4 linked regions of the Homo sapiens genome follow. Changing the gene in region 1 together with any one later gene gives a genetic interaction. Each region holds a gene or a part of one and is shown in the gene's direction. Other genes may lie near its edges.

Evidence for each region.
Region 2: changes in REV3L (region 1) and FAM107A impair growth when combined (synthetic growth defect), as found in Homo sapiens cells (one large-scale study listed by BioGRID).
Region 3: changes in REV3L (region 1) and CFLAR impair growth when combined (synthetic growth defect), as found in Homo sapiens cells (one large-scale study listed by BioGRID).
Region 4: changes in REV3L (region 1) and CACNA1A impair growth when combined (synthetic growth defect), as found in Homo sapiens cells (one large-scale study listed by BioGRID).

Annotation. Positions count from the first base shown.
Region 1 is NC_000006.12:111,366,813-111,374,308, reverse strand, and holds part of REV3L (DNA polymerase zeta catalytic subunit), read left to right. Parts: coding exon 1-1,713; intron 1,714-6,280; coding exon 6,281-7,194; intron 7,195-7,496. UniProt on the Homo sapiens protein: Catalytic subunit of the DNA polymerase zeta complex, an error-prone polymerase specialized in translesion DNA synthesis (TLS). Lacks an intrinsic 3'-5' exonuclease activity and thus has no proofreading function.
Region 2 is NC_000003.12:58,574,022-58,582,133, reverse strand, and holds the start of FAM107A (actin-associated protein FAM107A), read left to right. Parts: upstream 1-4,742; 5' UTR 4,743-4,825; intron 4,826-7,319; exon of another isoform or gene 7,320-8,112. UniProt on the Homo sapiens protein: Stress-inducible actin-binding protein that plays a role in synaptic and cognitive functions by modulating actin filamentous (F-actin) dynamics. Mediates polymerization of globular actin to F-actin. Also binds to, stabilizes and bundles F-actin.
Region 3 is NC_000002.12:201,166,730-201,174,225, forward strand, and holds part of CFLAR (CASP8 and FADD-like apoptosis regulator), read left to right. Parts: 3' UTR 1-7,496. UniProt on the Homo sapiens protein: Apoptosis regulator protein which may function as a crucial link between cell survival and cell death pathways in mammalian cells. Acts as an inhibitor of TNFRSF6 mediated apoptosis.
Region 4 is NC_000019.10:13,212,937-13,220,432, reverse strand, and holds part of CACNA1A (voltage-dependent P/Q-type calcium channel subunit alpha-1A), read left to right. Parts: intron 1-5,824; coding exon 5,825-5,932; intron 5,933-6,099; coding exon 6,100-6,200; intron 6,201-7,496.

The DNA of each region.
Region 1 (7,496 bases):
GGAATCAACGTTAATTCAAAAAAATATATTTGACCTTTCCAATCATTTATCTCAGGTAGCACAGAATACACAGATATCTTCTGGTATGTCCTCAAAGATAGAAGATAATGCAAATAATATACAAAGAAACTATTTGTCATCAATCGGAAAGTTAAGTGAATATCGCAATTCCCTAGAATCAAAGCTGGACCAAGCATATACCCCTAATTTTTTGCATTGCAAAGACAGTCAGCAGCAGATTGTGTGCATAGCGGAACAGTCAAAGCACAGTGAAACTTGTTCTCCGGGAAATACAGCTTCAGAGGAAAGCCAAATGCCTAATAATTGCTTTGTAACTTCCTTGAGAAGTCCAATCAAACAAATAGCATGGGAGCAAAAGCAAAGGGGCTTTATTTTAGATATGTCAAATTTTAAACCTGAAAGAGTAAAACCGAGGTCGTTATCAGAAGCAATTTCACAAACCAAAGCACTTTCTCAGTGTAAAAATCGAAATGTGTCAACACCTTCAGCATTTGGTGAAGGACAGTCTGGACTGGCAGTTCTAAAAGAATTGTTACAAAAAAGACAGCAGAAAGCACAAAATGCAAATACTACACAAGACCCATTATCCAATAAACATCAACCAAATAAAAATATTTCTGGTTCCCTTGAGCATAACAAAGCAAATAAACGGACACGATCGGTAACGTCCCCAAGAAAACCTCGAACTCCCAGAAGTACAAAACAAAAAGAAAAAATCCCCAAACTTCTCAAAGTAGACTCTTTAAATTTACAAAACTCTAGCCAGTTGGATAACTCTGTATCAGATGATAGTCCCATCTTTTTTTCAGATCCAGGCTTTGAAAGTTGTTACTCACTTGAAGATAGTTTATCTCCTGAACATAATTATAATTTTGATATTAACACAATAGGTCAGACTGGATTTTGTAGCTTTTATTCTGGAAGTCAGTTTGTCCCAGCTGATCAGAATTTGCCTCAGAAGTTCCTAAGTGATGCTGTTCAGGATCTTTTTCCAGGACAAGCTATAGAAAAAAATGAGTTTTTAAGTCATGACAACCAGAAATGTGATGAAGACAAGCATCATACCACAGACTCAGCCTCATGGATTAGATCTGGTACTTTAAGTCCTGAAATTTTTGAGAAGTCAACCATAGATAGCAATGAGAATCGTCGCCACAACCAGTGGAAAAATAGCTTTCATCCTCTAACAACTCGGTCTAACTCAATAATGGATTCTTTCTGTGTTCAGCAGGCAGAAGACTGTCTAAGTGAAAAATCTAGATTGAATAGGAGTTCAGTAAGCAAAGAAGTGTTTCTTAGCCTCCCACAGCCAAACAATTCAGACTGGATTCAAGGTCACACCAGAAAAGAAATGGGACAGTCTCTTGACTCAGCCAATACCTCTTTTACTGCAATACTCTCCTCCCCTGATGGTGAACTTGTAGACGTGGCCTGTGAAGATTTAGAACTGTATGTTTCAAGAAACAATGATATGTTGACACCAACTCCTGATAGTTCACCAAGATCTACTAGCTCTCCTTCACAATCTAAAAATGGCAGCTTCACCCCTCGAACTGCTAACATTCTGAAACCACTTATGTCCCCCCCAAGTAGGGAAGAAATTATGGCAACTTTGTTGGATCATGACCTGTCTGAGACTATTTACCAGGAACCATTTTGCAGTAATCCTTCTGATGTACCAGAAAAGCCCAGGTAATCAGTTATTTTTTCCCTTGGGTCACTCTGAATTATTATGATATATAAAATTATGCTATGGGGATTGAAAAAAAAAGAATGTATGCAACATTTGGTTACCTGACTGCTAGTTTTCTGTGATACCGTATTTGTAAGTATATCATTGTGGAAAGTATTTCTAATTACAGACTTACTAAGAAAATTCAAAAACTAACTGGATGGTTACACCTAGAGAAATTTATTTAAGTTGACTTGGATCTACCATTATTTAACACTATGTCTTCATTAAAGATTAGAGGTGCTCACTGTAAAGATGTCATGATACTTTAAAAGGATTACAATGATCATTGTTTAAATGGTATTTAATTTTTAAATGTTAAACTTTTATACCATTTTAAAAGAACTTCATTTTCAAGTGTTTTGAAAATGAGCATGTATGTGTTTTAAGTATTCCTCTGATATATCTCTAAGTGAAGATTATTGTAAGTTGTTTCTATTATAAACCACTTTTCATGTGGTTTCAATATCTTGTATTATATTGTTATTGTTATTATAGTTTATGCAGTTATTAGCAAATGGACTTTGGTTTCCATTCTCCTTTCTTTTAAGAATTTTTTCAGGTGGCTGGGTATGGTGGTGTGCACCTGTAATCCCAGCACTTTGGGAGGCCGAGGTGGGAGGATCGCTTGAGCCCAGGAGTTTGCGACCAGCCCAGGCAAAATAGTGAGACTCTCTCTCTACAAAAAATTAGGCCGGGCACAGTGGCTCACGCCTGTAATCCCAGCACTTTGGGAGGCCGAGGGGGGCAGATCACCTGAGGTCAGGAGTTCAAGACCAGCCTGGCCAACATGGTGAAACCCTGTCTCTACTAAAAATACAAAAATTAGCTGGACATGGTGGCAGGTGCCTGTAATCCCAGCTGCCTAGGAGGCTGAGACAGGAGAATCACTTGAACCCAGGAGGTGGAGGTTGTAGTGAGCTGAGATCACGCCACTGCACTTTGTTGCCTGGGCAATAAAGAGTGAAACTCCATCTCAGAAAAAAAAAAAAAAAAAGATAGCTGGGCATGGTGGCATGCACCTGTGGTCCCAGCTACTCAGGAGGCTAAGGAAGGAGAATCACTTGAGCCCAGGATGTCAAGGCTGCAGTGAGCTGTGTTCACGCCGCTGCATTCCAGCTTGGGCAATAGAATGAGACTTTATCTCAAAAAAAAAATCTCTTCAGGGAATTGATAGACAAACATGTGAGCGCACGCACACACACAGCAAATAGCAAAATAGAAATCAGAGTACTGGTTTATTTATCAGTAGTTAAGTAGTTATGGTGTATACCACTTTCATCACCAAGTTAGGACATAACTGATGAAAGCTAAATTGGGTAATGTGGCTTAATCCAGAAAGTTTAAATGATGGCTCTTGTTCCTGCCCTTGTGTCCATGATCTCATATACTTAACCAGTTGCAGAGCAGGCAGTTCATTTCAGCCATCCATTCAGAAGCAGAAGAGGATGGCTGGAACTGCTAAGGCAGGCCCTGCCTTAGTCTAAATCTTGGAAAGAGATAGGAAAAGCAGCAGAGGACACACTGCATGTATGCACTGACCTGTGGCAGTACCATGTTCCTGACTCCAGTGGGAAAAAAAAAAAAGAAAGATACAATATGAATATTACACATTTGTTCAAAGCCATAGAAAGTACCACACCAAGAACAAACCCAAATGTAATCTGTGGACTTTGGACAATTATGATGTGTCAACATAGGTTCATCGATTGTAACACATGTACCACTCTGGTAGGGGATGGTGATAATGAGGGAGGCCATGTATGTGTGGGGGCACAAGGGATATATGGGAAACTTCTGTACCTTCCTTTCAATTTTGCTGTCAACCTAAAGCTGTTAAAATATCTTTTTAAAAAAGTTTAAATTAAAAAAACACGACAGTGAATGCCAGGCTTTTACCCAGCAGATTCACAATAATTCCTATAGGAATCCATTTAAGAAAGGGTTGAGAATGTGAAATGATGGATATGTTAATTTGTTTCACTGTAAGAACCATTTTACTATATACTAATATCATATTTTATACCTTAAATATACACAATAAAATTTATTTTTTTAATAAAGGGGTGAGAAAAGGTTATCAGAAATGCAGAATAAAAGTTCTCTCCTGTAATGACTTGAAGTGAAAGGTAGAAATGTCCACCTCCCAGCCCCTTTTCAACACACAGTTTTGTTTAGTACCCACATGGAACTCTTTATTTCACTGCTGGAGCATATGAAATCTGTTCTTTAGACGTTAGTTTCCATCATTTTGGGGACTTTGGTGTTATTAGTAGTGATTATGGTATATTTACTTTTAGTTACCAAACTTTATGTGCTAGTCATTACCTTTGTGTTGTTGTTATTGTCCAACTTTGACACTTGTCCTGCAGCTAAAATAAAAAATAATCATTTTTGAAAAATATTTTTGAAATATGAAACTGTAGGCCGGGCACGGTGGCTCACGCCTGTAATCCCAGCACTTTGGGAGGCCAAGGTGGGCAGATCACAAGGTCAGGAGATCGAGACCATCCTGGCCAACATGGTGAAACCCCATCTCTACTAAAAATACAAAAATTAGCTGGGCATGGTGGCATGAGTCTGTAATCCTACTCGGGAGGCTGAGGCAGGAGAATCACTTGAACCAGGGAGTCAGAGGTTGCAGTGAGCTGAGATCGCACCACTGCACTCCAGCCTGGTGACACAGCAAGACTGTCTCAAAAAAAAAAAATGAAACTGTATATTCAATATAGAAAATTTAGGAAGTATGAAAGAAGAAAAAATAAAAATTACATCATTTTTCCATGTAGTAACAGCCACCATAATATTTTGATGTGTATTCTGTTTTCTTTTTTAAAAAGTATAGTTTTTAGTTTGTTTTGTTTTGTGAAGTGTGATCTTACTATAGTCACAGTATTATATCCAAATTTTTCACTTAACATTATATTGTAAACATTTTCCAAATGAGTTTCTTGAATATTTTAATCGCTGCATATGTTGCATCATGTATATATTATTGGACAGAAAGGTTGTTTGCAATTTTGCCACTATAGATATTATGTATATTATTATGTATGTTAAGAAGATATTAGCATTTTCTTCTTAAAGCATTTCTTGTATTTTGGAGTTTTTCCTTATAGCCCTAGAAGTAGGATTACTGAAAAATTTAAGGCTCTTGATACATATTAGGAGATTTTTTTTCCCAGTGGGTTATAGCAATTACCATGCTGCTGACAATATGTAAGAAAACTGAATTCACCACACCTCACCATTTTTTTTTTTTTTTTTTTTTTTTGAGACAGAGTCTGGCTCTGTCACCCAGGTTGGAGTGCAGTGGCGTGATTTCGGCTCACTGCAAGGTCCGCCTCCCTGGTTCACGCCATTCTCCTGCCTCAGCCTCCCGACACCTCACCATTTTTTATTCTTGACCTCATTATGACTTCTCTATCCTTAGTATTAGAGTTGGGTATGGTCACTTGGTATGTGTATTCATTTCCTTCAACAGCATTAATTCTGTTTCTGTTTTTTCACATTGCCAAGAGTGGATGCAGGGACAGTGCTGGATGCTGGTTATGGAGTTAACTAGTAGGGGCTTAAGTCTTTTCATATAAAGGAGACAGAGTAGCCCTAATGCTCTTCTTTCAGCTTCAAATCTGAAAACATGATCCAGTTAGTGGATTTTACATAGAGAGTGATGGGGACATTTGGGGAATCATGCCCTAAGAGAAGTGATTGAAAAAACTATGAATTAACTTTATATCCATAATAAAGTTAACATGAAGAAGTAGAATTATTTTATGTTGCTGTAGTAAGCAGAAATAGTATCAAGGGATTGGAGAAAGACAGAGGTTTCACTTAATATTTATAACTATTGGAAATGAAACCAGACTGTTTTCATTAGTGATTTCCCACATATTCATGCATTGGTAACATTTAAGCCATGCATCCTGTGGGCTCTGCCAGCTCCTAAGTTATGTCAGTGTTAATCCCTGCCATGGAATGGGAAGAAAGAATTAGAGTAATTTACCTCAGTTGGTATTTTTTTTAATGTTTAAGGGAATTTGAGAGTACGAAGATTCATTTGAATTGACTGGCTTTGTTAAACTACAGATACTGGAGAATATAGGAAGAAGCTATGAATAATATCCAGGGACATAGTATTTGAATGATAAATTCATTGTTTTTATTCATATGTGGTAATAATGGAAAATTTATTTTAAGATTAGGAGAGGAAAGGAATCTGAAAAGTTTGTGTCATCTCCTTGAAGGACAGAAGGCTTCATGGGGCATTAAAATAAAACAAAAAATACCTTCTCTCCCTAAGATTAATGGTACCTTCCAAAGGAAATTAAGTAGTAGTCATATACCTGTGAGGAAAAGCATATTGAGACTAAAGATAGAATGTACCTGCACAATATAGAGGGGGCAGGGAAGATAGACATGGACATTTTTGAGACTCCAAAAGGGACTTTATCTAGGATATGGAGTTAAATATTTTGGTAATTGCTCTTTGAAACAAAACAGTTGTTCTAAAATATGTTATTATAGGGAGATTGGTGGACGGCTCCTCATGGTAGAAACTCGACTTGCAAATGATCTGGCTGAGTTTGAGGGAGACTTTTCCTTGGAAGGACTTCGTCTTTGGAAAACAGCATTCTCAGCAATGACTCAGAATCCAAGGCCAGGGTCACCCCTTCGCAGTGGCCAAGGAGTTGTCAATAAAGGGTCAAGTAATAGCCCTAAGATGGTTGAAGATAAAAAAATTGTGATTATGCCTTGCAAATGTGCCCCAAGTCGACAACTGGTTCAAGTGTGGCTTCAAGCCAAAGAAGAATACGAACGTTCCAAGAAACTGCCTAAAACCAAGCCAACTGGAGTTGTAAAATCTGCTGAGAACTTTAGCTCTTCAGTTAACCCAGATGACAAACCTGTAGTGCCTCCAAAAATGGATGTAAGTCCATGTATACTCCCCACTACAGCACATACCAAGGAGGATGTTGATAATTCTCAGATTGCTTTACAAGCACCAACCACGGGATGTAGTCAAACTGCAAGTGAAAGTCAGATGCTGCCACCAGTTGCCTCTGCAAGTGATCCCGAAAAAGATGAAGATGATGATGATAACTATTACATTAGTTATAGCTCCCCTGATTCTCCAGTAATTCCCCCTTGGCAACAACCAATATCCCCAGATTCCAAAGCATTAAATGGAGATGATAGACCCTCATCACCAGTAGAGGAGCTGCCTTCATTGGCTTTTGAGAACTTCTTAAAGCCAATAAAAGATGGTATACAAAAAAGCCCCTGCAGTGAGCCTCAAGAGCCTCTAGTGATATCTCCAATTAATACTAGGGCAAGAACTGGGAAATGTGAATCACTTTGCTTTCATAGTACACCAATCATACAGAGAAAACTTCTGGAAAGGCTTCCTGAAGCACCTGGCCTTAGCCCATTATCAACAGGTAAGTGTACAAATAACAGGAAGTCTCCATAATTGTTCTTCAGAAATAGAAATGAAGATAACATTAGACTGTAATGAAAATCAGAGCTTTTTAAATGAAGGTATAGCTCAGCAAATATTTTTCGTCATGTCTTAGAAAGTCGTCACATGGCAACTGTCTTTCTGCTGTGAAATCTACTTATATTTGCTTCCATCCTGTCTTGTGGGTGAAATGCAGGAGCCCTCTCAAAAGGCTTATCTTCTCAACTTGACTTTCCTGTTGGCTTTTATACATACCCAGGTCTCCCACATTTTAAAACAGAA
Region 2 (8,112 bases), on another chromosome or scaffold:
ACATCTAGCAACTATGCTGCCAGGAATCATGAAGTTTGCTCAGTTTGACAGCTGTGGTCTGCCCAGGTTCTCCTGCATGCATGCGCGCACACATACACACACACACAGAGAAACAGACACACACACGCACACACACACATGCTCCCTCTCACATCCTCTCACCATCCATAGATTCACTCACTGTGCTTCTTGTCTGATTACAAGGGAATTAAAATGTACTGGGGATGGGGGTACCCCAGGGTCCTTCTGCAGCTAAGAGACCAAATTAACCATGTCTAATTGCAGCTGGGTGGAGAGCCAGCTTTCAGAAACAAGACTCTAAGTTCTTCCCCACCCCCTCTCACTTTCCCATTTTCACGCTTGAAATCCCTCAACTGGGTAAATTCTTCCCGGTTCAAACTTGTTGTAAAGGCGACTCTCATTCCTTTTATAATCTCTCCACAGATCCCATGACAGGTTCTTTCTGCCAGCACAGCTTCTTCTCCCCCAACCCCCGAGTCCTTTCTGCAGAGCATGTTTGAGAGGCGGGGGGCACGGTTTAATCCTAGGGCTGTTTTGTGGGTGGCTGCTCAGAAACCCCATTGAGGCCTTGAAAAGGGGCCTTGGAGATTTAGACTGAATACAGGGCTGAGGAGGAAGTTTTAAGTTGCCATGGAAACTTCTTGTTTGATGTTCGTGGGCCCAGATAAGCTGTTCTAGGCGCCCATGGGCTTGGAGAAAGGGGGCAAAAATGAAACAAAAGCTGTTTGGGGAGGTTATTTTCTGCACACTGCAGCCCAGCCCACTATAGATGCAGGAAAATTCTCCACCTCCCTGTCAGGACTGCCTCCCCTGGTCTTCCCTGTCCCCCTTCCTTTGGGTTCCTCTGGTTCCCAAGAAATCAGAGTTAAAAGGGGATGGGAGGGAAGACAGGAGGGGTGTGCCCAGCCCCTGGGCTTCCCCCTTTGATGCCCCAGCTCACCAGGGGGCCGAGCAAGTATGCAGATCCCCAGGCCCCTGGCTTCCCAGAGTCCTTCCTTTTGGAAGAATAGGAAGACCTCCAGGGAAAGCCACACAGAAGGAGGCAGGAGACAGCGACTGTGGCTTGAATTATGCAATTACCTGGAGTAAACGCCTCAAAGGCTTGTTTGTTCAGAGGGCCTCTGTTTTCCCATATTCTGATGACATAACTGAGCCAGATGTGATTCCTAACTAACTACAGTTGTTTGGGAAATGTTGCTCTTTCTCACATTTTTAATTCTTAGAGTCTTTTTCTGATAACAAAAGTAATATATGCTAGGGCCTTTTTTTTTCTTTTAACACCGCAAACATCACAGAAATGCAGTGACAAAGGAGAAGGGCCTGTAATTTTACGCTGTAGAACAATGGTCCTCAAACTCTTTAATATAAATGAGCCCCCAGAGAGGTATGTTTAAAATCCAGATTCCATGGTGGCTTCATTCCTGTGATCCTAGCACTTTGGGAGGCTGAAGCAGGAGGAACACTTGAGGCCAAGAGTTCAAGACCAGCCTGGGCAACACAGTGAGATCTCATTTCTAAAAAAAATAAAAAATTAGCTGGGTGTGGTGGCATGTGTCTGTAGTCTCAGCTACTTGGGAGACTGAGGTGGGAGGCTCGCTTGATCCCAGGAGGTCAAGGCTGCAGTGAGCCATTATGGCACCACTGCATTCAGCCTAGGTAACAGAGTAATGCTCTGTCTCAAAAAAAAAAAAAAAAAAAAAATCCAGATTCCTAGGTTCCTCCCTAGGAAAAAAAAAAAGCAAGAGCATTTTTAGCACTCATTTCAAATGACATCTAGTAATAGTATTTGAGATACACTGATCTAGAGTTGACCTCTGCTAACAGATTAGTGTATTTGCCTCCACACTAGTTCTTTATACATATACCAACTTTTTTATCTTGAAAAAAAAAAGAGATCCTACTACATATGATTTTTCATTGAATATGTAGAAGACATCTTTTTCAGGTCAATACATAGACATGTTTATTGGCTGCATCTCGTCTTGGGGTGTAGCATAGTCTCTTGCTGATGGAGTGTGGCCTGGGAAAGGGTGGTGGTTGGCCGCTGATCTCACGTACAGTTGCACCTGCACATGGACACACAGCAAGATGGTGCTGTAACAAGCTCAGCGCTGTCAAGGTTTTCGGTGTCTTCAGGTTAACAATAGTTATTGAGCCCCTCAGTACTGGGACAGGAAGATAGGTAGGTACCTGCCCTGGGGCTAGCAGTCTGATGGGTTTGTATACAAGTTGGACTGTGAGAAGAGTTTTTGTGGGAGAAGCACAGTGACTCCCAACTGCCCACGGAAAATGACGCCCAACATCCGAGGACTACTGCCCAGTTCTCCTTGGCTGTCAGGTGCGTGTTCCTCTGAAGTGTACCAGGTGATGGGCTTCTGTCTTCTCCGGGGATGAGCAGGAGCTGTCAGAAGTTCCCCCGCTCCAGGATCCTTCTTACTCTCCAACTGTTAGAAGGCACTGGGATTGGTTCATCTGAGCCACCAAAGACCCTAGGAAATATTCAAAATACTTCTTTGCAGAGCAGGAGGATGTGTGCAAGGAACCAGGGTCAGCAAAGAGTGGTTTGACAAGAATCTAGCTGTCCTCTTCTACCAGGAGAGTTTGGGGAAGTTAAGGCAGAGCAGGGTGGGAGGCTGAGGGGGCTACCATTCATAGTGCCTCAAGAAATGCAGAATTGGGGAAGAAGAAAAAAAGGGACCACACATTGTTTCCAGAAAATTGTTTTATACCCAAGAATTTAGGACCCTCTTAGTTTAAGTGGCTCGAGAATGGTCAGCGTGGCCAAGACTCCCTGGACATGCCTGCCCTGTCCCTCCCACTCCACCCCTGTCTCCCACCTCCCTCACTCCCAAGATGGCACCCAGCCTGCCTTTACATCACACCAGGATCCACCCAGTCTGGGCCTTTCCACTGGCTCTTCCCACCCTACGAAGACTCTCCCATGTGTACAGACTTCACACAACTGACTCCTTGTGATTCTGCTACCCTAAAACACCACCCGCTCTCACCTCACCCAGCCTTGCGTTCATCACGGCATTCCTCACTGCCTGACGTCATCCTGAATGTCCCCTTCTTTACTGTGTGTCCCCCTTGAAGGTAGGTTCCCTGACAGCAGGGATATTACCTGTGTCATTCACATGGTACCCCCAGCACTTAGAACAGTGCCAGGAACACAGTAGGAATTAAATAAATGTTTGTTAAATGAACAAATAATATAGGCCAAAGAAGACACAAGGTTGCCTTGTTAAAGCCTCCATTCACCTGTGATGCATGTCCTAGGCCTCATCACCTTCTAGCCAACCAAGACTCCATGAGAAAGTAAAGTTGGGGTGGAGGCCTGGTCTAACTGGTAGACCCCAGCTTCCTCACTGGGGAACTAGGATGACACTAAACGATAGAAAACACTTCCAGCTTTTCAAGTGAAAGCTGATTCTGAAATTAGGAGAATGCCTCCATTATCTATAAGCATCCAGGCTGGCCTTAAGGATCTACATACATTTTTTACTTTTCTTGGGTTTTTTTGTTTGTTTGTTTTTTGGGTTTTTTTGAGACAGTCTTGCTCTGTCACCCAGGCTGGAGTGCAGTGGCCCAATCTTGGCTCACTGCAAACTCTGCCTCCCAAGTTCAAGCAATTCTCCTGCCTCAGCCTCCCAGGTAGCTGGGATTACAGGTGTGTGCCACCACCCCTGGCTAATTTTTGTATTTTTAGTAGAGACAGGGTTTTACCATGTTGGCCAGGCTGTTCTCAAACTTCTGACCTCAAATGATCTGCCTACCTCAGCCTCCCAAAGTGCTGGGATTACAGGCATGAGCTACCATGCCTGGCCTACTTTTATATTTTACATTCACATGTTCATTCATTGAGCCACTACTTATGGAACACATATTCTGCCAGGCAAAATGCACCATGCTGGGCTCTGGCCTCAGATCACGTAGAGTCCAGGTCTCTCTTGGAGAAAAGTCCTATATGCTGAGCTTTGACTATGTGCTTCACTAATGTCATCTCATCCATGTCATCTCCCAACCACCCTGGTATGCTCCACATTTGACAAACACAGAAACCAAGACACAGAGACACTGAGTGGCTGCTGAAGGGGCTGGTGCTGGAGCCAGGGCCAACACATGAGCCTGCTGAGACCCAGACACGGTGCATCCCCTCTCCCACGCTCTTCCGTTGGCTCCTCTGTGAAGTTCCAATGACATTCAAGGTATCAGGAAAACGCTGTGTACGGAGTTTCTGACCCATTCGTGGATAATTAAGAACTGACCCAATGCTGAGCAGTTTCCCCTCCCTTTACACCCCACCCTTTTCCCCCCAGAGCCATTTTCTCCTGAAGAATCCACACCACTGCCTCAGGAAGCTTGGCTTCCCCTCCCATGGGGAAGTGCTGGAATCCACTCTTGCCTGACCCTCCCATAAGAAACAAGGGAAATTCCTTTACGTGAGCCGCCTTGCTCAGAACAAAGCTTGGCGTGTTTCTTATTCCTCATCAATCTGACAAAATGGGTATTTATTTGTGCCTCTCAAGCGTGTGGCTTGGACATGATGTTCCGCATCGTGGAAGTGGCCGTGCACCAAGTGGAATATCTGTTACTATAGTAACAGTTCCTTTTTATTGATACCAGAATAAACAGGAATGCAAAGGCTGTCTCACTTGTTGGCACATTTCAGCAGCCTCCGTTCCCAGGGGTTTAAGAACCGCCCTCTAGAGGCAGCCCTCCTTGCTAGTCTGGGACTTCCCGGTGGAGTGAGGAACCCAGCAACACGCTCCTGACTTCCCTTCCCAAGGACTCGACCTGAGAAGTAAGACCATCTCTGTTCTGTTTCATCTGCTGTTGAGAGCGGTGCCGTTCGGGAGGAGGTGGAAGGGAAGGAGGGCAGACCCGGTACACTGAAGTGGGCTGTCAGTGGACCTGAGTGCTTTGAGTTTAGGTACCCGGGCTATGTCCCAGCATCCATAAAATGATACGGGAGATGCCTCCAGGCACCCTGGGTTTCGGAAAAGGGTAGGAGACAAAGAAGCGAGCCCCCTGGCATAGCCCTGCATTCTTGTTGATCTTTTTCTGCTGCATCCTCAGGTGAATCTGAATTAATGCATGATATAGCCTCACCTAAGTCAATTATCACACAGTATGGGGGTTTAATTCTCAGCACAACAGACAGAACACAGATTTCAGCTTCAGAGTTTGGCTCAGATTCAAGCTCTTTCCTTCACCGGCTGTGTGATTTGGGGAAATCAGATGACTTCCCTGAACTTCAGTTTCCTTGACTGTAAAAAGAGGATAATAACAGTACCCACCTCTTCAGTCTGTCGTAAGAATTTCATATTTCATGAGATATGGCTGCTAGGTGCTTAGCACAGTGCATGGCACATAGTGCACGCAGGTTAACGTGTGAAGGGCCTGCCTTTCTGGTGAATTTGGCTTTAGGACTTTGCAATACAAGGCAAGTCTGAGATTGGGCCAGAAATCAAGAGCTGTAGGATTGGGTGTGTCACTTTTTGAAACTGCTACCAAACCCAAGTAGCTTTGAGCTTCAAGGCAGCCCCCACGCCTGCATCTCTGGGTGGCTTAGATCCTGAGTGGCCCTCTTAGTTCTGTTGGTGGTGAGTACCTGCTGGAATTTTCCCTGCAGAGGCATCTGCCAGGTAAAGTGGCTGACATCATGCCACTAATGAGCCAGCAGGGATTCCAGGTCTGCTGATGCTTGTTCCAGATCAACTGCACAATGCTGTCCACTAACCTTGCTAAGTATCCTCCATGTCTAGCCCTGGACTCTGCTATTTAATTGGTTCAAAATCCTAAATGTCCACCCAACATTCTCCTTCCGAGGTAGGAAGTTGCAACGGACCTGAGGCAAAATGTTCAGGAAGTCAGCCTTGAGTCATTGCATCCAAATGGACAAGCAGCTCTGCTGGGGGCTTCCGAGCATCGACCAGAAGCTGCTGGGAGATCTGGAGGTGGCTCCGAGATACACTGTTCTTTGGCTGCTGGCCAGTGAAATACAAATAGGCACTTTCCCCATGGAGAGGAAAAAAGCCAGAAGGGTCAGGAAATCCAGTGACCGTGCTTGTCACTTTTACTGAATGCCTGTTTTTCCTTTGCCAGTCGTTATTTTGAAAGCCTCTCTTCTCCTCTGCCCTGGCATCCCATTAAATGCTGAACCAAGAGGGTTCTGAATGTGTTCGGAACCCAGCAGCTTGAACAGTAATGAGGAAGTGGGGGCACAGGAGGGAAGGCCACCAGCTGGTCCTCTCCTAAACAGAGACCAGCCTGAGGCCAGACAGGCCCGTGGACTCTAGCTTAAGCCCAAAGCTGCTAGGGCCAGGCTGGGGCTCCCCAGTGAGAGTTTGCATTTCACGTAGGCTAGGAGTCCTCAAGTTAGCAGGCCTCCATGTTCTTATCTATAAAATGGGCTCACACAGCCTCTTCATTGGGGTTTCTTGACTATCTAGAGAGAGAAAAGGGACATAACCCTGCTTTGTCAACTAAAAGACATTTTGCACCTTGAAGACAGTGGAGAGGTAGAAAGAGCATTGAATTTGGCGTCCAAGGTCCTGGCTTTGCTGCTTACTCTCTGTGTATCGAGACAAGTAGCTTGGCCTCTCTGAGCCTTAGTTTTCTCATCTATAAAACAGGGTACCACTGGCTGCCTCCAAGGGTGATTTAGAGATCCAGATCAAATTCTAGTGGTGACCACAGGGTTTCTTCAGGACAGAAGTACCATAGTTTGTCTTCGGTGAGCATCACTCTGCCAGGCGCTGGGCTAAGCACATCATGCCATTGTATCACTTCACCCTCCAAACTGCTCCATGAATAGGCTGTTATCCTTGCTGTATAGAGGCTCAGAGAGGTTAAGCTACTTGCCCAAGGTAACACAGCTGGGAAGGATTGCCACCATGAATCAAACCCACTCTGTCTCCACTAAAACATCTGCTTTAACCATTGCTTTACTGGCTTATGTGTCATTTGTTACAACTGATGCCATCGAAGACAGAAACATGACTACCAGAACAGTGGAGAGGCAAGTGGAAGGGACACTGAGGCCTTAGACAGCCTGGGGTCCCATGGCTATTGTCAAGACGAACTGGGCCCCGAGACTCCATCAGTGCAGCTCTCCTTCTGTCTCTCCTTACTCTCTCCTGTGGCTGCAGGCACCAGTGTTTGGTTTCAAATCTGCCACCCTGCATTAGCCATGCATGCCCCAGTGGCCCGGTGCACTCTCCGTGGGAGCAGCAGTGATCTCTGCTGAGCCTTGCCTGGTGTGGGGCCAACATCCTGTGGAGCCTGTGGCAAGGAGCTCTGGGACCTCTTGGGTCACCAACAGAACCAGGGAGGAACCAAGCAAGGGGTTCCAAATCTTTCCTCAGACCCCTTATTATCCCCACCCCAGGAAAAACAACATCAGTCCCATAAACTGCATATTGAGAATTATTTGCCATCCTATAGTCATGCAAGACACTCAATAGCTGTCGCCTACTGGTGGCCTCCACCCCATGCCCAGCTCTTTAGCTCATCCAATCTTCACAGCATCACAATTCTACAGAGGAGCATCCCAGAGGTTAGAGACCATCCCAAGATCACACAGCTGCTAAGAACTGTGACCTTAATCAGATTTGCTCACAATAACCAGGCCAACTACAGTCAGCTGAGATCCTTCAGGACCGAAGCAAATAAGTTTGTGTTTTGGGTTTTTAACTCCATGGTTTGCAAAGTTGGCTGACTCTAGGAATCACCTAGGGAGCTTTTAAAAATCCCCAAAGCCAAGCCGCCCCCCAAACCCATTAAATCAGAATCCCTGTGGTGGGACTCAGGCACTGGAATTTTTGAAACTTCCTGTGGTGATGCCGATATGCAGCCAAAGTTAAGATCCACTGATTTAACCAGTGTGGTTTCTGAGGATGAGAAGGCTCCATCTAGGACTAGGAATGGGATTTATTAATAGTGATTGTTAATAGCAGCTAACAGGGTGGTCACACTGCCATTCCAGGGGCACCATTCACAGTTTAATCTATAGGAGTTGAGGACTTGCTGTGAGGTACCCAACCAGCCTGTTGTATGTGGCAGCCCTGGTAGCCAGCCCCAAGCGCT
Region 3 (7,496 bases), on another chromosome or scaffold:
CGAGGCTGGCAGATCACTCGCAGTCAGGAGCTGGAGACCAGCCCGGCCAACACAGTGAAACCCTGTCTCCACCAAAAAAATACGAAAACCAGTCAGGCGTGGCGGCGCCCGCAATGGCAGGCACGCGGCAGGCCGAGGCGGGAGAATCAGGCAGGGAGGCTGCAGTGAGCCGAGATGGCAGCAGTACAGTCCAGCTTCGGCTCGGCATCAGAGGGAGACCGTGGGGAGAGGGAGAAGAGAGGGAGGGGGAGAGGGCTATTTTTAAAATTTTTTAAAATTGCTGAACAGGGGTACCTCTGGGCAGTGTGTCAGAATACCACTTTTTAAATATTTTATGATTTATTTATTTTTCTATTTCTTGAGGTTTTAACTGATGTGTATCTGTATGTCTATTTGTGTATATTTTGTCATGATCATGTAACAGAGTCTGAAAAGTGTCGAAGAGACAGTTTTCAGGAACAACAAGCAATTATTCCTACTTTCCAAGTTATTTTGATGCCATGGTGGCTCATACCTATAATCTGAGTACTTTGGGAGGCTGAGGTGGACTGATCACTTGAGCCCAGGAGTTTGAGACCAGCCTGGGCAACATAGCAAGACTCCATCTCTACAAAAAAAGACAAAATTTAGCTGAGCGTGGTGGCGTGTTCCTGTAGTCCCAGCTACTTGGGAGGCTGAAGTGAGTGGATCCCCTGAGCCCAGAGAGGTCAAGGTTGTGATGAGCTGTGATCACACCACTGCACTTCAGCATGGGAGACAGAGTGAGACCCTGTTTCAGAAAAAATAAATAAATAAAACCACCAGCACCACAAACAACAACAAAAAGTTATTTTGTACTTGTTTTGAGCACAGGACTCCTGAGGGTATCTTTGCATTTAATATTACATAGGGGTGCCAGTGGGAAGTAATGTGTATGCTTGGCCTCATGAGCTAAAACCCTGTGTTAATTATGACAGAAGGAAAGTGTGTGAGAGAGATCTTAACTACCTAGCAGCTCTAGCTGCCATCTTGAACCATGAAGATACGGGCCACACGTAGGGGTAGCTGGGTAGTGAGCAGCAAGAAGCCTTGTTGGATGAGGGCACGAAGGAGCAGAATCACTGGAATCACTGTGTCAGCCCTAATTACCTACCTCTGGACTTTTATGTGAGGGGAAAAAAAATTGACAGTTTATATTTATCTCAACCTAGTTAACCCAAGTGATGCATTGTTATGAGATTAAAATGTTTGGAGGCCGGGTGCGGTGGCTCACGCCTATAATCCCAGCCCTTTGGGAGGCCAAGGCGGGCGGATCACGAGGTCAGGAGATCAAGACCATCCTGGCTAACATGTAAAACCCCGTCTCTACTAAAAATACAAAAAATTAGCCAGGCGTTGTGGCGGTCGCCTGTAGTCCCTGCTATTTGGGAGGCCGAGGCAAGAGAACGGCATGAACCTGGGAGGTGGAGCTTGCAGCGAGCTGAGATCTTGCCACTGCACTCCAGCCTGGGCGACAGTGCGAGACTCTGTCTCAAAAATAAATAAATAAATAAATAATAAATAAAATGTTTGGAATGTTGGCTTCATCCCTGGGATGCAAGGCTGGTTCAACATACGCAAATCAAGAAACATAATTCATCACATAAACAGAACTAAAGACAAAAACCACATGATTATCTCAATAGATACAGAAAAGGCCTTCAATAAAATTCAACGTTGCTTCATGTTAAAAACTCTCAATAAACTAGGTATTGATGGAAAATATCTCAAAATAATAACCATTTATGACAAACCCACAGCCATTATCATACTGAATGGGCAAAAGCTGGAAGCATTCCCCTTGAAAACTGGCACAAGACAGGGATGCCGTCTCACCACTCCTATTTAACATAGTATTGGAAGTTCTGGCCAAGAAAATCAGGCAAGAGAAACAAATAAGGGGTATTCAAATAGGAAAAGAGGAAGTAAAACTGTGTTTGCAGATGACATGATACTATATCTAGAAAACCCCATTATCTCCACCCAAAAGTTCCTTAAGCTGATAAGCAACTTCAGCAAAGTCTCAGGATACAAAATCAATGTGCAGAAATCACAAGCATTCTATACACCAACAATACACAAGCAGAGAGCCAAATCATGAATGAACTCCCATTCACAGTTGCTAGAAAGAGAATAAAATACCTAGGAATACAGCTAATAAGATGTGAAGGATCTCTTCAAGGAGAACTACAAACCACTGCTCAAGGAAATAAGAGAGGACACAAATGAAAAAACATTCCATTCTCGTGGATAGGAAGAATCAATATCATGAAAATGGCCATACTACCCAAAGTAATTTATAGGTTCATTGCTATTCCCATTAAACTACTATTGACATTCTTCACAGAATTAGAAAAAAACTACTTTAAAATTCAAATGGAACCAAAAAAGAGCCCGTATAACCAAGACAACAATAAGCAAAAAGAACAAAGCTGGAAGCATCACACTACCCAACTTCAAAGTATACTGCAAGGCTACAGTAGCCAAAATGGCATGGTACTGGTACAAAAACAGACACATAGACCAATGGAACAGAATAGAGACCAGAGAAAGAAGACCACACATCTACAGCCATCTGATCATCGACAAACCTGACAAAAACAAGCAATGGGGAAAAGATTCCCTATTTAATAAATGGTGCTGGGAAAACTGGCTAGCCATATGCAGAAAATTGAAACTGACCCCTTCCTTACACCTTATACAAAAATTAACTCAAGATTAAAGACTTAATGTAAAACCTAAAACTATAAAAACCCTAGAAGAAAATCTATTTAATACCATTCAAGACATAGGCACAAGCAAAGGTTTCATGACAAAAACATCAAAAGCAATTGCAACAAAAGCAAAAATTACAAATGGGATCTAATTAAACTAAAGAGCTCCTGCACAGCAAAAGAAACTATCATTAGAGTGAACAGGCAACCTACAGAATGGGAGAACATTTTTGCAATCTATCCATCTGACAAAGGTCTAATATCCAGAACCTACAAGGAACTTAAAACAAATTTACAAGGAAAAAAACAACCCCATCAAAAAGTGGACAAAGGACATGAACAGACACTTCTCAAAAGAAGACATTTATGTGGCCAACAAACATATAAAAAAAAGCTCAACCTTACTGATCATTAGAGAAATGCAAAGGAGAACCACAATGAGATACCATCTCATGCCGGTCAGAATGGTGATTATTAAAAAGTCAAAAAACAACAGATGCTGGCGAGGCTGTGGAGAAGTAGGAACACTTTTACATTGTTGGTGGGAATGTAAATTAGTTCAACCGTTGTGGAAGTGTGTGTGGCTATTCCTCAAAGATCTAGAACTAGAAATACTATTTGTCCCAGCAATCCCATTACTGGGTATATACCCAAAGGAATATAAACCATTTTATTATAAAGATACATGCACATTTTTGTTCATTGCAGCACTCTTCACAATAGCAAAGACACAATAGCAAATGCCCATCAAAGATAGACTGGATAAAGAAAATGTGGTACATATACACCATGGAATACTGTGCAGTGCAGCCATTACAGCTTTTGGTGATACAGTGAATCAGATTTTTCATTAATTCTTTTAATTGGTTATTACTGAACGTGAAAAAGTAATGTTTGTATTGAAATCTTGAGTCTGGCCATGTTTCTATTTTAAATTCATAAAGAATTCTAACAAGAGGAATTCCAAGAATGTCATAAATGGATGTTTCTCCATGGATGAAGGAACTGTTTTATTCACTTGCTGATAATTCAGCCTAATCCAGTTTGACATCATATAGATAAGTAGTTGAATTATGGATTTAAAATACATATCATTTTCTAACTCCAAAGGTAATACTTATTTAAATGGTTTTGAAAATATAGAAAGGCACAATTTCTTTTTAAATCTGTTATTCTCCACCACCACTCAATCTGTCTATCATCTATCTCTCCATTCATTCTTCCATTTGTTTATATCTGTTAATCTTTGTATGTGTTCATGTATAGCTTTTACATGATTGGAATCATAATGCATATTCCATTTTGAAGTCTGCTTTTTTTTACACAAAAATATGTTGTGAATATTTTCCTATATTATGAAATATCATTAGCTGAGCTTTTAGAATTGACTGCATGTTTTGGTACCATTTAGATATAGTTTAAGATACTTAGAAGTTATGTGGCTTTGCCACTATGGATGAATCTTATTTACTCAATATTAATTACTTACAAATAACCTCACCTAAACACTACTCAGCCATAAAAAGGAATGAATTAATGACATTCACAGCAACCTGGAGACTATTACTCTAAAGGAAGTAACTGAGGAATGGAAAACCAAACATTGTATGTTCTCACTCATAAGTGGGAGATAAGCTATGAGGATGCAAAGGCATAAGAAGGATACAATGGACTTTGGGGACTTAGGGGAAAGGGTGGGAGGGGGGTGAAGGATAAAAGAATACAAATTGGGTTCAGTGTATACTGCTCAGGTGATGGGTGCACCAGAATCTCACAAGTAACCACTTAATTACTTACGCATGTAACCAGATACCACCTGTTCCCCAAACACCTATGGAAATAATTTTGTTTTTTTTTTTAAAAAAGGAATGAGATCATGTCCTTTGCAGGGACATGGATGAAGCTGGAAGCCATTATCCTCAGCAAACTAACAGAGGAGCAGGAAACCAAACACCACATGTTCTCACTTGTAAGCGGAAGCTGAACAATGAGAACACACGGACACAGGGATGAGATCAACACACACTGGGGCCTGATGCAGGGGCCGTAGCGGGGAGAGCATCAGGATAACTAGCTAATGCATGTGGGGCTTAATACCTAGGTGATAGGTTGATAGGTGCAGCAAACCACCATGGGACACGTTTACCTATGTAACAAACCCGCACATCCTGCACTTGTATCCAGAACTTAAAATATTTTAAAAATCTTTAGAGAATACAAAAAAAAAAAAAAAGATTCTTCAATGCATACACAATAAAATTGCAGTTCAGTCAAACATTGGAAGTCTTTCTCTGACTGTCTAGTTGGTATCTTCATTTTCAGCTTCTTCAAGATCCCACTCCAAACACTGTTAGCTCAGCCAAATTGAACAGCTCATATCTCCTACCTCTGGATCTTTGGTTCTGGTGATTGTATATTTCTGGACCATCTGGAACCCCAGCATATCACCCTACCCCACATCTCCACATCCCCAAAATATAACCATACTTCAAGGGCAGTTCAAATACCATCTCCTTCTATCCTCCATGAAGTCAGTTATCTCTTCCATTGGAATTATCGCCCCCTCTCCTGAACAGTACTATTTCGTGTGAATCTCCTCCAAGCCTTCTTTTCATTTTATATCTCATGCTGTAATTCTTGGAAAGTATGCTGTAGCTCAAGTGCAGAATTCTCATCAGTTTTATCTTTATATCTCTCCTAAACACTTTACCTGATGAAGAGCCTGGCATACACATAAATATATATTGAATGAATCAGTGATGGATTGAAAAGAGAAATGATGGATCTCCTAAATTTTAACTTTTATAAAATATTTTGATACATTCATGACCTTACTTTAGCAAGCAATGAACGTGATGTAAACTATTGTTGATATAGTTTTTATATTGGAAGTGTAAGTAGTTTGTGGCATGGGATTGTGACATATCCTAGGTTTCCTCATCTTCTTTTTATTGAAATGTAATTCACAAGCCATAAAATTTGCCCCTTTAAAGTAAATGATGCAGTGGATTTTAGTATATTTACAGAGTTGTGCAATCATCACCACTATCTAATTCCAGAACATTTCCATCTACCTAGAAACTCCATACCAGTGAGCTGCCACTCTAATCCTCCTCTTCCCCCAGCCTCTAGAAACAATAATCCATTTTCTGTCTCTATGATTTGCCTGTTCTAGATATTTTATAAAAATAAACATGTGGCCTTTCGTGTCTGACTTCCTTCACTTAGCATGTTTCAAGGTTCATCTATGCTATAGAGTGTACCAGTGCTTCATTACATTTTATGGCTGAATAATACCCTATTGTGTGGATATACCGCATTTAGTTTATTCATCAGTTGATCGAAATTTAGACTGTTTCCACTTTTTTGCTATTATGGATGATGCTGCTATGAATATTCGTATATGAATTTTTATATGGATATATGTTTTCAGTTCTTCTGGGCATATACCTTAGAAGTGAGAGTGCTCATCATATAGTAACTCTATGTTTAGCCTTTTGAGGAACTGCCAAACTGCTTTTCAAAGTAGTAGCATCATTTTATATTCCCACCAGCAGTGTATGAGGTTTTTTTTATTTTTTTGTTTTTGAGACGGAGTCTCACTCTGTCGCCCAGGGTGGAGTGCAGTGGCGTTATCTTGATTCACTGTAACCTCTGCCTTCTGGGTTCAAGCCATTCTCCTGCCTCAGCCTCCCTAGTAGTTGGGAGTAGCTGGGTTTACAGGAGCTCGCCACCATGCCCAACTAATTTTTGTATTGTTTTTTGAGACGGAGTCTCGCTCTGTGGCCCAGGCTGGAGTGCAGTGGTGCAATCTCAGCTCACTGCAAGCTCCGCCTCCTGGGTTCATGCCATTCTCCTGCCTCAGCCTCCCAAGTATCTGGGACTACAGCCGCCCTCCACCACGCCCGGCTAATTTTTTGTATTTTTAGTAGAGACAGGGTTTCACCGTGTTAGCCAGGATGGTCTCTATCTCCTGACCTCGTGATCCGCCTGCCTTGGCCTCCCAAAGTGCTGGGATTACAGGCGTGAGCCACCGCGCCCAGCCAATTTTTGTATTTTTAGTAAAGACAGGGTTTCACCATGTTGGCCAGGCTGGTCTCGAACTCCTGGCCTCAGGTGATCTGACTGCCTTGGCTTCCCAAAGTGCTGGCATTACAGACATTAGCTACTGTGCCTGGCCTCAAGTCCTTTCTCATTTTAAAACTGCGTTATTTTATTTTATTTTTCTGAGATGGAATCTCACTCTGTCGCCCAGGTTGGAGTGCAGTGGTGCAATCTCGGCTCACTGCAACCTCCACCTCCTGAGTTCAAGCGACTCTCCTGCCTCGGCCTCCCTAGTAACTGGGATTACAGGCACCCACCATCACGCCTGGCTAATTTTTGTATTTTTAGTAGAGACAGGGTTTCGCCATGTTGGCCAGGCTGGTCTTGAACTCCTGAACTCAGGTGATCTGCCTGCCTCGGCCTCCCAAAATGCTAGGATTACAGGCGTGAGCCACCACACCCGGTGGGTTGTCTTTTTATTGTTGAGTTGTAAGCATTCTTTTTAATATTCTGGATACTAGTTTCTTATCAGGTACAATCTTTGTGAATATATTCTCCCATTCCATGGATTGTCTTCTCACTTTCTGGATACTATACAGTACAAGTTTTAAATTTTGATGAAGTTCACTTGATTTCTGTTTTTTATGTTATTGCTTATGCTTTTGGTGTCATACCTAAAAAACCATTGTCTAAATCAATTGCCTATGAGGTGTTACCCCT
Region 4 (7,496 bases), on another chromosome or scaffold:
CTCCTGGAAGTGCATGTAATCCTCCATGTGCTCTCATTCTCTCTGACTTCCCCATCTGCCACCCAGCAGAGACAATACTGTGCTTTTCAAGGGCTCACCTGATTGGGGCAGGCCTACCCTGATCATCTCTGTATTTTGAGGTCAGCTGACTTGATATTTTTTTTTTTTCTTGAGACAGAATTTCACTCTTGTTGCCAAGGCTGGAGTATAATAGTGTGATCTCAGTTCACTGCAATCTCCGCCTCCCAGGTTCAAGCAATTCTCCTGCCTCAGCCTCCTGAGTAGCTGAGATTACAGGTGCCCACCACCACGCCCAGCTAAATTTTTTTGTATTTTTAGTAGAGATGGGGTTTCACAAGGTTGGCCAGGCTGGTTTTGAACTCCTGACCTCAGGTGATCCACCCGCCTCAGCCTCCCAAAGTGCTGGGATTACAGGAGTGAGCCACCATGCCCAGCATTTTCTTTCTTTTTTTTTTTTTTTTTGAAACGGAGTCTTGTTCTGTCACCCAGGCTGGAGTGCAGTGGCGCAATCTCGGCTCACTGCAACCTCCATCTCCCGGGTTCAAGTGATTCTGCCTCAGCCTCCCAAGTAGGTGGGACTACAGATGCGTGCCACCACGCCCGGATAATTTTTTGTATTTTTAGTAGAAACGGGGTTTCACCATGATAGCAGGATGGTCTCGATCTCCCAACCTCGTGATCTGCCCACCTCGGCCTCCCAAAGTGCTGGGATTACAGGCGTGAGCCACCGCACCGGGCCTCCGGTATTTTAATTATATCTGCAAAGTCCCTTCATAGCCTGGGCAATGGTCCCTAGATTAGTGTTTGAATAAACAGAATCTTGGCAGAAGGGCAGCTTTTGAATTCTGCCTACCACAGTTCCTTCGTTTGTACAACGGGTCTAACAACACCCCCACTCTTTGTATGTAATGCCATCGTAACTCAGCTTCTGTGGCACTCTGAGAATCTGTGTTCAGGGGTCCCAAAACCACCCACAGGTTCAGTGATTCCCTGGAAGAACTCAGAACTGAGAAAAGTTTTTATACTCACAGTTTATTACAGTGAAAGAATATAGATTAAAATCTGCAAAGGGCCGGGCACGGTGGCTCACGCCTGTAATCCCAGCACTTTGGGAGGGCGAGGTAGGCAGATCACTTGAGGTCACGAGTTCAAGACCAGCCTGACCAACATGGTGAAACCCTGTCTCTACTAAAAATACAAAAATTAGCCAGGCGTGGTGGCTGGCGCCAGTAATCCCAGCTACTTGGAAGGCTAAGGTAGGAGAATCACTTGAGCCCAGGAGGCAGAGGTTGCAGTGAGCCGAGATCCCGCCACTTCACTCCAGGCTGGACAGAGTGAGACTCTATTAGAAAAAAAAAAAAAAAAAAAATCTGCAAAGGGCCTGGCATGGTGGCTTACGCCTGTAATCCTGGCACTTTGGGAGGGCAAGGCGGGCAGATCACTTGAGGTCACAAGTTTGAGACCAGCCTGGCCAACATGGCGAAACCCCGTCTCTACCAAAAATACAAAAATTAGGCATGGTGCCAGACCCCTGTAATCCCAACTACTCAGGAGGCTGAGGCAGGAGAATCGCTTGACCCTGGGAGGCAGAGGTTGCAGTGAGCTGAGACTGTGCCATTGCACTCCAGCCTGTGTGACAAGATCAAAACTCTGTCCAAAAAGAAAATTAGCCAGGTGTGGTGGCATACACCTGTAGTCCCAGCTACTCCAGAGGCTGAGGCACAAGAATCCTTTCAACCCAGGAGATAGAGCTACATTAAGCCAAGATCACGCCACTGCACTCCAGCCTGGGCAACAGAGCAAGACTCTGTCTCAAACAAACAAACAAATTCCAAAAACATAAAATGCGCAAAGGAAGGGCATCTGGGGAAGGGTCCAGGAGACACCAGGTGCGAGCTTCCAGTTGTCTGCCTCCAGTGGAGTTGCACAGACAACGCTTAATTCTCCCTGCAGTGTGTGACAACACGCACCGTGTACTGCCAACCAGGGAAGCTCACCTGAGCCTTGGTGCCCCAGGGTTTTTATTGAGGGTTTGTCATATAGGCAGGGCTGACGTAGTTACTCAGTCTCCAGTCCCTCCAGAGGTCAAACTGATACCACGTGGCCCAAGACCCCAACGATAAATCGCATTGTTAGAATGAACTGTATGGAAAATTATCCAGGCGTGGCGGCGGGCGGCTGTAATCCCAGCTACTGGGGAAGCTGAGGCAGGAGAATCACTTGAAACTAGGAGGCCGAGGTTGCAGTGAGCCAAGATCGCACCATTGCACTCCAGCCTGGGCAATAGAGCAAAAACACCATCTCAAAATAAATAAATAAATAGAATGAACTGTATTGGCCGGGTACAGTGACTCATGCCTATAATCCCAGCACTTTGGGAGGCTGAGGCTGGAGGATCGTTTGAGGCCAGGAGTTCGAGACCAGCCTAGGCAACATAGTGAGACCCTATCTCTTTTTTTTAAAAAAAAAAAAAAAAAAAAAAAAGAATGAACTATACAGTGTGGCCCAAGGCCCCCTGCTAAATAAAGACACTCTTCAGGCAGGACATTTCAAAGGCTTAGAGATCACCTCCCAGGAGCAAGTCAATGGGCCAGTCCTTTCATCGGAATGTGCAGGGTTTGGACAACACTAGCCTACTGAGCTAGTCCTTACTGCTTAGCACCCCAGCTTCTATGACACCTACTGGATTCCCTTCCTGAGGGTTTCAAAGACTCCTGGAGATGTCTCTGAATTTGGCTGTCACAGTTGTTACTTGTACCCCAGATGCCACTCAGTTCCCTGAAGACAATGATCCCCCAGATTTCTCAGCCAGGAGCCCCTCCACCTCTTGTCCTCAGTGGGTGCCAGGCCTCATCCTGGAGTTCCACAGCTGAGCCAGGCTCTCGGGGTTACGGAAGGTCAAGAGGGTGTGGGGACAACAATGGAAGAGTGATAACAGTGGCAGCCCTTTGAGCAGATGCGGGTCTCAGGAGAACATAACGCGCTTTCTTTTCATAGTTCAGCTCACTTTCTAAGCACACTGAGCTTCCTTTCCAGCAGGCTAAGGGGCTGCAAAGGGGGTACAGATTAACCTCATTCTTCAGATTCTCAAAAATGGTGTCACCATTCATTGCTGGAGACTGGGAGAAAGGGGGCAAGTCCATCTCATTCTCTCTGTCTCTGTCTCTCTCTCTCTCTTCCCTGTCCATCTGTTTCTCTCTCCCACCCACCCCTCTGTTCTCTCTGCCCAGAAGAATCTCTATTTTGGTTTTGGTTTTGTTTGTTTTGTATTGTTTTGAGACGGAGTCTCGTTCTGTCGCCCAGGCTGGAGTGCAGTGGCGCAGTCTCAACTCACCACTGCAGCCTCCACCTCCCAGGTTCAAGCGATTCTCATGCCTCAGCCTCCCGAGTAGTTGGGATTACAGGCGCACGCCACCACGCCCAGCTAATTTTTGCATTTTTACTAGAGACTGGTTTCACCATGTTGACCAGGCTGGACCCTATCCTCTTTCAAGCCCCCCACCCCAGGCATTGAGGGCAGAGCCAACTACCTGCCTGAACCAATTAGCATATTAAACGTAAACCCAGTTAGCATATCCAAATAGCAGCCCACAGTGACATTCTGACTGTCAGAATGTGGATTGCTTGAGCCCAGGAGCTCAAGGCTTCGGTGAACAAAGATTGTGCCACAGCCTGGGCAACAGAGTAAGTCCCTGTCGATCGATAGATAGATGATAGATAGATAGATAGATAGATAGATAGATAGATAGATAGATAGATAGATAAATTTTTAAAAAAAATAATAGGCCAGGCACAGTGGCTCATGCCTGTAATCCCAGCACTTTGGGAGGCCGAGGCAGGCAGATCACCTGAGGTCAGGAGTTCGAGACCAGCCTGGCCAACATGGTGAAACCCTGTCTCTACAAAAATATAAAAATAGCCAGGCAGATGTCTGTAATCCCAGCTACTCAGGAGGCTGAGGTAGGAGAATCGCTTGAACTCTGAAGGTGGAGGTTGCAGTGAGCCGAGATCATGCCATTGCACTCCAGCCTGAGTGACAGAGCGAGACTCCATCTCAAAAATAATAACAATAATAAAAATAATAATAAATGCTCTGGCCCCAAAGTGGCACATTACATGGTGCACACCCCATTAGCAAGGACTCATCACATGGCCCTGCCAACCACAGGAGGAACCCCCCCATGTACTCAGGTAGGAGGGCCAGGAAACACCGTCAGAGAGCTTTAATGACTCACCCCATGACTGGGGTGAGGGACGAGGGACTGGCTGCAGGCCAAGGGCATGTCCGTGGCAGTGGAGACTTGGGAAAGGGGAAAAGACCTCCTCTGAGCCACGCACAGTGGCTTTCATCTGTAATTCCAGCACTTTGGGAGGCTGAGGTGGGAGGATCTTGAGCCCAGGAGGTCGAGACTGCAGTGAGCTATGTTTGTGCCACGGCACTCTAGCCTGGGCGACAGAGCAAAACCCTGTCTCAAAAATCAAAATAAAACCAAAACCAAAACTTCCTCTGTTGGGGATGCTCCAGGGCGTCCCAGCCTTGAACAGATGGGTCACTGCAGTAATAATCCTATGGCAGACACTGTCCCAAGGCTGCACGCACGTTACTTTGATCATCAAACAACCAGGTGATAGCCAGGCATGGTGGTGCGTGCCTGTAGTCCCAGCTACTCAGGAAGCTGAAGCGGGAGAATCTCTTGAACCTGGGAGGCGGAGGTAACAGTGAGTCGAGATCACATGACTGCACTTCAGCCTGGGAACAGAGAGAGACTCTGTCAAAAAAAAAAAAAAAACAGGCCAGACGCGGTGGCTCACGCATGTAATCGCCAGCACTTTGGGAGGCTGAGGAGGGTGGATCACCTGAGGTCAGGAGTTTGAGACCAGCCTGGCCAACATGGTGAAACCCCGTCTCTACTAAAAATACAAAATTAGTTGGGCGTGGTGGTGCACACCTGTAATCCCAGCTACTCGGGAGGCTGAGGCAGGAGAATCGCTTGAACCCAGGAGGCAGAGGTTGCAGTGAGCTGAGATTGCACCATTGCACTCCAGCCTGGGCAACAAGAGTGAAACTCCATCTCAAAAAAAAAACAAAAAAAAAACAACCAGCCAGGCGCGGTGGCTTACGCCTGTAATCCCAGCACTTTGGGAGGCCGAGGCGTGTGGATCACCCGAGGTTAGGAGTTCGAGACCAGCTTGACCAACATGGTGAAACTCCGTCTCTACTAAAAATACAAAAAATTAGCCAGGCATGGTGGTGCATGTCTGTAATCCCAGCTACTCGGGAAGCTGAGACAGGAGAATTGCTTGAACCCAGGAGTCGGAGGTTGCAGTGAGCCAAGCTCGTGCCACTGCACTCCAGCCTGGGCAACAGAGCAAGACTCTGTCTAAAAAAAAAAAAAAAACACACACACACACACACAACAACCAGGTGAGGCAAGTACTCTTGCTATCATCTCCATTTCACAGATGGAGAAACTGAGTTACTAAGTGGTAGAGTAACCTAAGTCATGCAGCCGATAACTGGGAGACAAGATTGGGACCCAGGTCGCCCAGCTGTTCTCCATGCCGGGCTGTCTCCTGCACAGCTGCTCCATGGTCCTGGCCCCACCGAAAACCAGAGCCCACAAGGTCATTCCAGCAGCACTGCCCAGGGCCTCCTCTGGGCCAGGCCGTTGGGGAACTGGAGACCCCATGGGGACCAGAAAGATTGGGGTCTCGTTCTCGGGAGCCTATGGCTTTGCAGCTGACCCAGAGTCCAGCTGACACCCAGGCAGGCAGTCAGGGTCTGTCTACACCCCCATTGCAGGAGGAGCCGACAAACAGCAGATGGACGCTGAGCTGCGGAAGGAGATGATGGCGATTTGGCCCAATCTGTCCCAGAAGACGCTAGACCTGCTGGTCACACCTCACAAGTGTAAGAGCTGAGCCCAGCCCTGGGATCCAATCCACCAGGACAGATGGAGGGGGAGGGAAAGGGGAGGCCTGGGGAGAGTGTTGGCCTGGGCTGGTATACACAGGGACCCAGGACAAGGGCCCCAAAGAGGCCTGCCCTTGGTGAGCTCACCGTGTGTGTGCCCCCAGCCACGGACCTCACCGTGGGGAAGATCTACGCAGCCATGATGATCATGGAGTACTACCGGCAGAGCAAGGCCAAGAAGCTGCAGGCCATGCGCGAGGAGCAGGTGCGCTGTTCGCCGCTCTGGGGACATCTGGGCTGGGGACAGTGGCTTGCATGTCACCACGGGAACCAACTGGAATATGAGGGTGGCTGAGCCCCAGGGCAGGTCCCTGAAAAGTAGGGGCTGTGCACAGCAGCTCACACCTGCAATCTCAGTGCTTTGAGAGGCCAGGGCAGAGGGATCGTTTGAGACCAGGATGAGACCACCCTGGGCAACACAGTGAGACTCCATCTCTACAAAATAAAACATTAGCCAGGCATGGTGGTGCACACCTGTAGTCCCAGCTATTTAGGAGGCCAAGATGGGAGGATCACTTGAGGCCAGGAGTGGGAGACCAGTCTGGGCAACATAGAAAGACCCATATCTCTACAAAAAAAAAATAAAATTAGCTGCATGTGGCGCCATGCACCTGTGGTCCCAGCTACTTGGGAGGCTGAGGCAGGAGAATCACTTGAACCTGGGAGGTGGAGGTTGCAGCAAGCCAAGATCAAGCCACTGCACTCCAGCCCGGGTGATAAGAGCAGGACTCTATCTCAAAAAAAAAAAAAAAAAAAAAAAAAAAAGTTCTTGCCAAGGACACATCATGTGGATTCATTCTTCATTCAGCTGCTCCACCAACACTTATTGAGTATTACTGTGTGCAGGGCGCTGTTCTCAGTCCTCGGGGATGCACCCATGGGGAAAATAGGCCAGAATCCCTGCCCTCAGGGAGCAGACATTCCAAGTGGGGAAATGCCAATGGTAGCAAATGACTGAATCGTGCAACATCCAGCAAAGAGAAAGAAAGTGTCGTGGGGGAAAGTGGAGAAGAATCCAGAAGATAGGAGTATCCAGGGGAGGAGGGGATGCGGTGGGAAATGGGTAGTTGGGGAGCCTCCCTGAGAAAGTGACATGTGAGCAAAGGCTTGAAGGAAAAGGGGAGAGGGAGTGAGCTAAGCAATACCTGGAAGGGTGTTCCAGGCAGAGGAAACAGCCAGTGCAAAGGCTCTGAGGCTGGACCGTGCCTGGGTTGTTTGGGTAACAGCAAAGAGGCCAGTGTGGTGGAAAAGAGCAGGGAGGAGACAAGGGCAAGGAGGTGACAGGGCAGATCCTTCAGGGCCATGGGAGCTGCAGGAAGGACTCTGGCTTTTTCCCCAAGCAAGTGGGAGCCATGGAGGGTTCTAAGCAAAGGAGGGATAGGACCTGACTCAAGTGCTCATGGGCGCCCTCTGGTGGCTCTTGTGGAACAGTGGGGTTGAAGGTAGGAGCGGGAGACCTGGGAGAAGGTGCCTGCAGTGAGAGATGAGGACGTGGGACCAG